Regions from separate parts of the Homo sapiens genome. Here region 1 is linked to region 2. A link means that fine-mapping ties the variant in region 2 to the expression of a gene that starts in the linked region. Tissue or cell type: aorta. Region 2 holds a variant in brackets; the other region holds the start of a gene. All regions are shown on one strand. Distances are between the middles of the regions.

Region 1 (5,109 bases), 160 kb after region 2:
GAGCTAGAAGTTGTTAGGCGGCATCTTGATTTGCAAGCTGGTTTCCTAACTTGGCAGCTTCTTGACCTTGGAAGAGACGAGTGATTCTGGAGTCTACAGCTCTGTTGCAATTTTCTGATTATGGCAGAGGCAGTGGCTCCCTTGTCAGTCCTGGTCTGTGGTAAAATTTTTGTGGAAGCTTATTTTGAAAATGATTTCTTAAGTTCTTCCAAGTGAACTATATATATACTCCTTAATAAATTCCTTTTTGCCTAGACTAACCAGAGGAGATTACGTTATCCACAACTAAGAACCTTGACCAATATATCATATAAGCTAATAGTATACAGTTATTTAAGAGAATGAGGGTGGTCTTTATGCATGATCATTGGAAGTTGGTGAGATTGTAAATAGTAAAAAACCGGATTGTAGAATAGTATGCTCAGAATATTCTCTTTTTTTGTTAAAAAAAAAAAAAAATCAATGCAGGCCAGGCGCAGTGGCTCACGCCTGTAATCCCAGCACTTTGGGAAGCCGAGGCAGGCAGATCATGAGGTCAGGAGATGGAGGCCAACATGGTGAAACCCCGTCTCTACTAAAAATACAAAAATTAGCTGGGTGTGGTCGCACGAGCCTGTAATCCCAGCTACTCAGAGAGGCTGAGGCAGGAGAATTGCTTGAACCCGGGAGGCGGAGATTGCAGTGAGCCGAGATTGCGCCACTGCACTCCAGCCTGGCAAGAGAGCCAGACTCTGTCTCAAAAAAAAAAAAAAAAAAAAATCAATGCATATGTAAAACAAGTCTTAAAGAACATTTGTTATCTGTGGAAGATAGAATTATGAAGGCGTTTTACAATATTATAGATATTTTTGCTTAGATTTTTATGATACTTCTTGTGTATTTATTGCATTGTCAAAAAATAAAAATAAACCCTTAAAAAGACAAAACTAACAACCACAGCCCAAAACAAACAAACAAGAAGTAAAATCACGCCATTCCAATGGTGGCCCTCAACATAATGAAGACTGAATTTCCTTACAGTTGAATGAGAAAGGAACTTGCGTTGAATATAAATTAGGAGAAAAGTAAAAATTTTCTCCTGCACACCAGTCTGAGGATTCATACACCCAAAGTTAATTTGTTGATATTTTAATCTATATATAATTATGAACTGTGTTTATTATGAGACTATTAAAAAAACTGCTTTCCATCAACATGTAGGTGTTTTCTTTGAATGGGATTACAAATACACCAGGGATTGACAACGTTCATATTTACTTAGCAAATAATGATCTAATCCCTGGGTCAATAGTGAAGCTGAGGAAGGAGAGGACTGTGTTTACAGGTGATGGAAGGTTGTTAGGCAGGACTCACAGTTGGATTCTAGATTTCAGGGTAGGGACTACTTACTGACTTTTCAGTCAGGCGGATCCCAAAGAACTGCTGCCTGGACGGGAATGGGAATATGGTCTGGCTGGGAGGACAGAAAGCTACAGATGAAAGAAAATGTGATATGGGTTGCAGACTCAGGGCCTTGAGCACTGTTCTTTCTCATCTTCGTGGTGGGGGATTATGGGGTGGAAATGCACTCTCCCAGTCGGATCACATCCCACTACTCACCAGCGTTATATCCCGTCGCGGCTTCACATATATTACTTACCTGGCCCGGGTGGCATTTTACTTTGCATCCTTGATTGGGAGTCTCAGGGGCTACGAACAAACGTTTTACCCCCGGGTAGCAGGCGGGTGAGGAGCGAGTATTCGCGGAGCGGGATAAGTGGGGATGTCGCTGCGCCCTCGTCCCTTCATCTCCGGGGGACGGCCACTCTCAGGGTTCCCGAGGAGCCGGCTCCGTGCACCTAGGCCCTAGGTCGGCTCCCAAGCCCGGGCCCGCCGCTACACCAGCCGTTTCTTACCCGCAGCTACAAATCTGACACAGACACCAGCTCCTCATACTCTTGGCTCCCATGCTTTCCTCCACCGCGCCTCAGCACTTGCAGCTTCTCCACTCCCACAGCGCCCGCCGTAGTCAAGGCAACAGAGGGATGCCCGGTGACAGACTCGGCGCCGGCTTCCGGCGGCGTCAGAGACGTGCGGGTGAAAGGTCGAGCGACAGCCGGCCCCGCCCCCTGGCGCGCGGGCGTGTCGGACCCGCAGAGCTCTCGGACTTTCGGAAGCTCTCGGTGTGGGTGCGACCCGAGAGAAGGAGCGGGGCTGGTGGGGCTGCTGCAGCCGGTGAGTGTGGGCTGGCGCTGGGGGCTGGAACCTCCTAGGCCAGCCTTTGGGCGGTGCCGGAGGAACCCGCTCGCTGCGGCTCTGAGGCGGGAACAGGGGCTGGGGCCGAGCGCGGGCTGGGAGCTTCGGTCCCCGGAGTGCCGCTTCCCGTCTGGGGCCGGGGCGGTCGCCTGTCTGTGTGGACCCAGGATCCTCAAAGAGAACGAATCTGGGACCCTGCAGAAATGAAGGGCATGTAGTGTAGAGGTTTTTCCTTTTTATTTAGAAAGGAATGAAAGACCGGCAGTGCACCTGCTTGGATAATAAGCACGTGACCCAAAACTTTGTTCGGGCTCCATGGGCAGGAATAAAGCTGGGTATTTGACCTCGCGCGAGGACGAGCGAGAATGTCAGAATGAGGGACTTGGGGGAAGACTGAAGAGAGAAAGGGAGCATCTTCTTCAGCATTTTCTCTCCCTCCTGGATGCAACCCTTCCTGTACGTGGTCATTGGCCTGGAGATGTTTACTGGAGTACTCCTCCACCGGCAGGGTTACTGGTGTCACTGTGCACCCAGTCCCCTCGAGCTGCGTGATTCATCGCAGCCTTTGGATCCGGAAGGATGAGCAAACTCCTTAAGTGTAATCGTGGTAGGATACTGACTTTAGTGCTCGAACTGGACTTAGGCCTTGGTGGTCTATCTCATCAATAAACATTCACTGGGTTCTTGGTTTAAGGGGTTTGAGAAGCTTGCCACCTCCCAGCGTTTATTATTATTTTTTTCTTTTGCCCCGACCTTTAGCCTCTGGGCCATTTGTAATACATATTTAATTTTTAGTCACAGGAAATAAGTAATCATGGTGCTCAACAGTTTGGATAAGATGATTCAACTCCAGAAAAACACTGCCAACATCAGGAATATTTGTGTTTTGGCTCATGTTGACCATGGTAAGAATACTTTTTAAATGGCTTATTTTGATAAATAAGGGAGATGTGTCTCTGTATGTCTCAGTGGAGTGAAGCTGTGGACAGCTGAGAGTGATGTTTGCTAAGAAGCAAGTCTTCTTTCTTTAAAAGTTTTGTGTGATGTTAGGGAAGCCTGCTTTGCTATAAAGCATTTGAAATGAACACGGTTACCTAGTGAGTAGCATTCTTCTATATATTATGTCATGTTGTTTTTTAAAGCAGAACTTGAATTTTTTGTTTTTGAAATGGCTTTACATATAAAATGTCTGTAGTCTTGACATAATGTCCTTAGAGTCTGTGGTATGTGATCCTATTTAATTCATCAGATATTTATCAAACGTCTGTTAAGTTCAAGATATTTTGCTTAGTATGTCTGAAGGTGGAGATTTATGAGTAGGGCACTAGCCCAGGGGAGGTTTTAACGGGGAGCAGAGCAAAATGAGACAAACAAGAGAAAAAAGTAGACTCTAAGGTTGGGAGAACTAGAGGATTAGGAAGTGAGGGGTTAGGAAAAGACCTCACAACATAATTAGTATTAGAGATGACACTTGAAGGGGGCTCAAGATGACAAATGGAGATAATCATTACAGGTGGGAATGTGTCATCAAGGGGAGAGGGAAATATATGTGGTCAAAGCCCAGTATATGGGAAAGGCAGAGATAGCTAACCCATGGTATGTTCTTCTGACAGATACTGCTGTAACTCCATAGCGCTCCTTCATGCTAAGCCTCCTCTTGATTTCAAACCTCTTGGTAGTTTAGGTAACCACAGCAAAGTGATTGGGATGGGCATATGAAATAAAACATATTTACCATCCTGAAGATGAAGGACCAGTTGGCGAGGTGAAGAAGCAGGCTGAGTCATATCTCATAGAGCTGCTCATGCCAGCTAGGAACTGGGATAAGAGTTGAGTGCTCCAGCTCTGGAGTTAGACAACCTAAGTTCAGATCTCCATTTTCAAGTTACATACCTTGCCTTTTTGAGCTTCAATATACAGCATCTGTAAAACAGGATGAAAACTATACCTGCTTTATAGGCTATAGGATTAAATGTGATAATAATGAGAGGGAAGGTAAACGCTTCACCATGAAAACGATCATTAATGTCTACTATTAGGCAGTAGGGAGCCTTTGGGGGAAAACATGGAGCAGGAATGATGTAATCAAATAAAACATGAGAAAGATTAGATTGGTAGACATGCTTAGGATGGATCCAAAGTCAGAGATTAGGTGGCTGTTGTCATTGATAGAAGAGCTGAAGTAATGTGAGTATGGAAACTGACAGAAAGACAGATAGTGGATCACTTACAAGTGAAGCCAGCTGTGAATGAGTTTTAGTACAAATCCAGTGAGTAACCCCTGCCTCCATGAGTTTTTATAATTTTACTGCTCACATTTTGAGAATGTGAAGGCTGATAAAAGGGTTTTTTTTTTCTTTATGAATTTATTCAAGTGGAAAGTTAGTGGGGTGTAACAAATTACTTTAAATGTATTGTTTAAAATTATGTTAAGCTGCTACTATCCTAAAAAACCTGGGATTCATCCATTCAACAAGTATTTTCTGAAGGTCTTCTATATGACAAGCGTTGTTCTGGTCCTAGGGATACTGCTGTGAATAAAGCAAAGTTCCTGCTTGCTTGATAATTATTTTCTAGGGAGGTATATACTTGGTGTACTTAGAATAAATTCAGCTTTACTGGGTAGCAGGAAAGTGATGCTCTAGGATTATATGCTAATACATATTTACATTGCAGACAGATAGCAGTGTTAAATATCTTCAGTTCTCCTACTCATTGGTCTCTGGTTTGAACAATACAGAGATTCCATAGCTTTGCTGAAGTTCCTAAAGTGCAATAAAGACTTGTCTTGAAGGAAAAAAACCCTCCTTTGCTTACTCCAACCCAGTTGTAGTAATTATGCATACCCCTGACATTCTTTACACAGAATCACCT
Region 2 (5,206 bases):
TGGAGAAACTGGCACTTCTCACAAGAATAAAAATGGCCAGTGGCATATACAAAGATTCAAAAGCACAAGAAATCAAAGAAATGTCATGAAAACAATGAGATTTTCTGTATAAAGGCAGGAAAGATGACAAATGGAAAGGGGAACCTGGAGCTCTGTCCTTGTTGGTGGGAGTATAACCTGAGTCACTTTTCCTGGAGAATGATTTGAAAATTTCTATTAAAAACCCTAAAAATTATTTTCCTCCAGAAATTCTACTTCTATGAATTCAGTCCAAAAATGTTTGCTCGAGCCCATTAAAATGTGTGTATAAGAAAATTCACCTCTGGGGTGGCAGTGATTAACTTAATATACATCCAGCTATTAAAAATGATGATGCCAGGATATATTTACTGCCACAGAAATATGCCCAAAATATAGTAAGTGACAAAAGACTACATACTACGATTCTACTTTTTAAAAGGTTTATGTGCATAAAAACGTATAAAAAGCAACAAACCACAATGTTTTGAGTGGCAAATTAAAGATTTTTCTTAATATTTGTCATCCAAATTATTACAAAAAGAATGATTTCCTTTATAATGAGGGAGAATTGTTATTTTCATTTATTTATATTTAAATATCTTTTCTTTTTCTGATTTTGTTTTCTCCTGTATGTATCCCATGTAGGCTAGAATCCCTGCCTCTTGAGGTAAATCAGCCCATTTTTGGGAAGTGCGCTACAGAAAGCTGCCCCAGCTTCCTTTTAAGAGATCTGGAGACATTTTTTATTTCAAATTGTTTTATCGTTCTCAGATTATTTTGTTTAATATATGAAATTGAGGAAAAGACAAAGGAAAGGCTGACTCCCTACCCTCCTGGGGCTACTCTTCCAATTTTTGCTGCTATTGTTATATATTAATATTCACTGGGTACTAAAAAGATGGGCAGCCCCTTAGATCATTTGTTCTTATCTCTTTCTCATAATCCTACTTCATTCCTTCATTCACTTATTTTTAAAAAGGTCATGTGTACAAACACATGGTTCAGAAAATTTTTAAATATAACTACCTATAAAAGTATGTGGCCAAATCCCATTCACAGTCTTATTCTCCTTCTACAGCCAAACACTTTTAATTGGTTTCTTATATATCATTTCAGAATTTATGTTTGCAAATACACACGTATATTCTTATTCTACTCTTCTCTCTCAACACAAAAAGTAGCATACCATACATACTATACCATTCCTTGTTCCTCTTAAAACACACACAATATATGTGAGTTCTTCTACATGAGTACAGAGGTCTTTGTCATTCTTCTTTACAACCGCACAGTATTCATCGTTTGGATGTACCACAGTTTACTTAACCAGTTCCCTGTTGGTGGACACTGAAGTCATCCCTATCATACTATTACAAACAATAATGCCAAGCATAACCACCCACATACCAAGTTCATTTCTGAATCTGCCTTTGATGAAGCCTCTATTTGAATCACCACAAGGTCACAAGGCTGAAAAGTTAGCCAATTTTTTAGTTTTCATTATGTACAGCAGTATGTAGCAAAAGACTCCCTTGGGCAAAGCAAATGTGCTCTTTGGGGATTTACTGCATAACAATAAATGGATTAACACCAAGGAGAAATATTTCTATTTAACCATGCACATGTATGTATATAATACATGCATATGCATAGATAGTATACAATAAATCCATCAAAGCATTAAGCATTGTCTCAGTATGGTGGATCTATGGAGTGCTTTGTAGACAGCCCTCCTTGCCTATCAATTCTTTCTAGTTTCAAAACAGTGAATATGTACTATTTTTGCAATATAAAATTTCAATAAATGTTAACTCAAGCCAGGTACATTCCTTCAGTCTGTCCTATATTTGTATGGTGCTCCAGAGTGCTCAAATATCATTTCATTAAAAAAATTTACTTATTTTTTTTCAAATATAGAAACAGGCAGGGCTTTGCTCTGTTGACCAGGCTGGTCTTGAACTCCTAGATCCTCCTGGATCCTCCCACTTCCACCTCCCAAAGTGCCGGTATTACAAGTGGGAGCCATCCGGCCCGGCCGGCTTCATTTGAGAAATATTTCCCCAGAACTCCATATATTATGAATAATTCCTTTCTTCTTGTTTAGATACCATCTTAGTCATATCTCTGTTACCTCACTTGTCACATGATAATCAGTTGCTCACCCATCCATCTCCCTTGATTGCTCGAGAAGAGTCTGATTTTCAGCACCTTGAACAGTGTGCAATACATACATGCTTCATACGCAGAGAAGGAAATGATATCACTACAGTGTAATTATTCCCAGAATTCAATGCCCGTATTTGTAAATTGTTCCAGATACTCTGCCAACAACCTGAGAATGTTATGTGTTTTCCCTAAAACTTCCATCGATTACTGAGTGTCTACGGTCATAGTTAACTCAGTTGCGATCTGACCTCTGGCCAAGCCCATTCATAGCTTGTATTATAGGTGATTTTTAATTTTAATTTTTGATTTTGATAGTTTCCTTTTTGTTTTTTTAATCTAGCAGTGTTTGGTAAACTTCAACATCTCTATATCCCTGTGTCTTTGCACCTACTGGTCTCTGCTTGGAATAATAGCTCAAGGTTTTATTCACC[T/A]GGAAAAAATTTCTACTTACCCTTAAAGAATCAGCTTAAATAAGCCGGGCATGGTGGCTCATGCCTATAATCCCAGCACTCTGGGAGGCCAAGGTGGGCGGATCACCTCAGATCAGTAGTTTGAGACTAGCCTGGCCAACATGGTGAAACCTCGTCTTTACTAAAAATACAAAAAATAGCTGGGTGTGGTGGTGGATGCCTGTAATCCCAGCTACTCGGGAGACTGAGGCAGAAGAATCACTTGAACCTGGTAAGCAGAGGTTGCAGTGAGCTGAGATCACGCCATTGCACTCCATCTTGGGCGAGAGAGCAAGACTTCATCTCAAAAACAAAAACAAAATCAGCTTAAATAATACCGTCTCTGAGAAGCCTTTATATCTTCCTATTCTTTCAGAAAGAGTTGAAAATTCCTCAACTCTTAAAACATTTGTGCCTCTATTATTATGTATCAGGCACTGAACTGAGTGCCTAGGAGAGAAAGATGAAACTGTAGACCCTGCCCTCATGGAGTTCATGGTCTAGTATGGAAAACAGCCATATGAACAAATAACCATACTGTAGGTCTTCAGAGCTCAAACCCTATCCTAAATACTGCTAAATTAATATTCTGTGAGGTTTTGAAATTACTAGGGCCAGAGACAATATCGCTGTTTGGATGACTTTCCATCCAAGTTAACATTCGGCCCTCATCATCAAAGGTGGTATGTGTGTACCTCTTCCTTGCAACCCACCAGGGCCTAACACATCATATACCCACTTTTGAAATTAGGAAACAGCCTCAGAAGTCCAAGAGCTTGACCAAAGTAACTCAGCTGGTAGGTAGCAGAACCAGGTCGGTATGATTCTTCTTCAATATCCTCCAAGTTATATGGGCAAGTGGCCTCAAAATCAACAAAAGACAAGTAGAGGTTGACATGCATTAATGGAGAGAGGCTCAAAAGGAAGAGTTTATACACAAGAATAGAACAGAAATGTTCCAGAAGTATGTCTGGGGATGTGAAGTAGGAGGGGGCACACCAGGTTTCACCTTGGTCAAGTGAATCTATAATTCCAACCTGGGCCTCACCCCTGAGCTCCAGACTTAGCTATCTGTTTTTCTCACTCTAATATAAAATCCATAGGGCAGGACTTAATCTCTAGGTTGTTCATCACAAATTAAAGCAGAGTCTGGTTTATAGTAAGTACTTAATAAATAAGTAAACAAACTATCAAAGAAGCTAAAGAAACATTCTACACTCTTGGGGGAAGGGATTACCATGAAATGCCATCTGTCTTTTTCCTACTTTTCAGTATTTGGGGTGTTCTTCATTGAAAAAGATTAGCTTCTTGAATGTTCCAGATAGGAAGAGAGAGGGAGAGGGAGAGAGACAGGAACAGAGAGAAGTTTCATATTTTAACTATGGTTCAATTCTAAGCATTCTAAAATTGTATTGAGTTTTTTATACCATGAATTACAAGGGTGTTTAATTTCCAAATTCATGTAGCTTTTTGTTAATCTCTTCATTATTGCCTTCTAACCTTAATTGCTTCATATTTAAATTATAAATTATATGGTGTGGATGGTACCAATTGTTTTTAAATCTTCTGACTTGCTTTACGAATTAATATATAATTAATGTTTCTCCCACAGTCCACATATGCTTGAGAAGAATATAGAATATCTAATTATTGGGTACAAAGGCCTATATTTGTCCATTACACCATGTCCATTCACTGGTTATTCAAATCTACATATGGGCATTCTGTGTAACTTACTTATGGTAAGCAGGGTATGGTGAAATCTCCAAATATGCTGGCAGACTTGTCAATTTCTCCCTGTGGTTTTATCAGTTTTTCTCCTGCATTTTGAGGCTATTTTGACAGGTACATAAAATATGAAAATTGCTACATCCTCCTAATTAACAGTCAGCATCAAGTTTCTTACTAATGCTTTCTGTTCCAAAATCCTTTTTTGATACTGAAGCTCCATCACTTGTTTTTGGTTAATGTATACTGCCATATCTTCATTACTCTCTCTCCTTTATAAAAACTTTCAATCTTCTCATATCCTTATATTTTAAATATGATGGATTAAAACAGCTGGATATTCTTTTATTAGTTCCACCTAACTGGTAACTTTAGTCCATTTACATTTGTTGTGACTGATTTATGTGGACTTCCTTCTATTGCCTTTAGAACTTCTATTTCTCTCACTTTCTAATATAATTTTAATATCTCCTCCTGGGATTCCACTAAGACATATTTTAGACCTCATTCTGATCTCCCTCCCCCTACAACCCCACCAACTTCTGCCCTATCATCTATCCTCATGTCTCTCTGTGTAACATACTGACTCACTTTTGGGAGATAATTGTCTAACCAACTAATTCTTTCTTCTGATGTCTAATCCATCCACTGAGTTTTTTATTTCAACAATTACATTTTTTATTTCTTTATTTCATTTTATTCTGAGACGGAGTCTCACTCTGTCACCCAGGCTGGACTGCAGTGGCATGCACGTGCAGCCCTTGCCTCCTGAGCTCAAGTGATCCTCCCTCCTCAGCCTCCTGACTAGCTGTGACTACAGACACGTGCCCCATACCCAGCTA

Direction of the effects. Positions count from the first base shown, and alleles are read on the strand shown. Sizes are in standard deviations (SD) of each study's normalised expression.
For the expression in aorta of the gene that starts at base 2,010 in region 1, A is the high allele of the variant in region 2 and T is the other (large effect, 1.8 SD a copy in GTEx).

The links. PIP is the estimated chance that this variant, and not a neighbour inherited with it, causes the effect.
Region 1: SAXO2 starts here. The variant in region 2 is fine-mapped to the expression of SAXO2 in aorta (GTEx, PIP above 0.99).

The regions. Positions count from the first base shown.
Region 1 is chr15:82,259,719-82,264,827 of GRCh38, reverse strand. It overlaps SAXO2 (stabilizer of axonemal microtubules 2), which reads right to left and starts at 2,010. Exons shown (of 4, transcript NM_001348699.2): 1 at 1,896-2,010. The coding sequence starts at 1,948. It overlaps EFL1 (elongation factor like GTPase 1), which reads left to right and starts at 2,094. Exons shown (of 20, transcript NM_024580.6): 1 at 2,094-2,214; 2 at 3,031-3,140. The coding sequence starts at 3,050. RefSeq lists enhancers at 1,790-1,859, 1,880-1,969 and a silencer at 3,978-4,164.
Region 2 is chr15:82,421,826-82,427,031 of GRCh38, reverse strand. It overlaps a transcript of GOLGA6L9 not described here. Among named protein-coding and RNA genes, the nearest start is that of GOLGA6L9, 5.4 kb to the left of the region's middle. The variant T/A (reference allele first, on the strand shown) is at 2,619.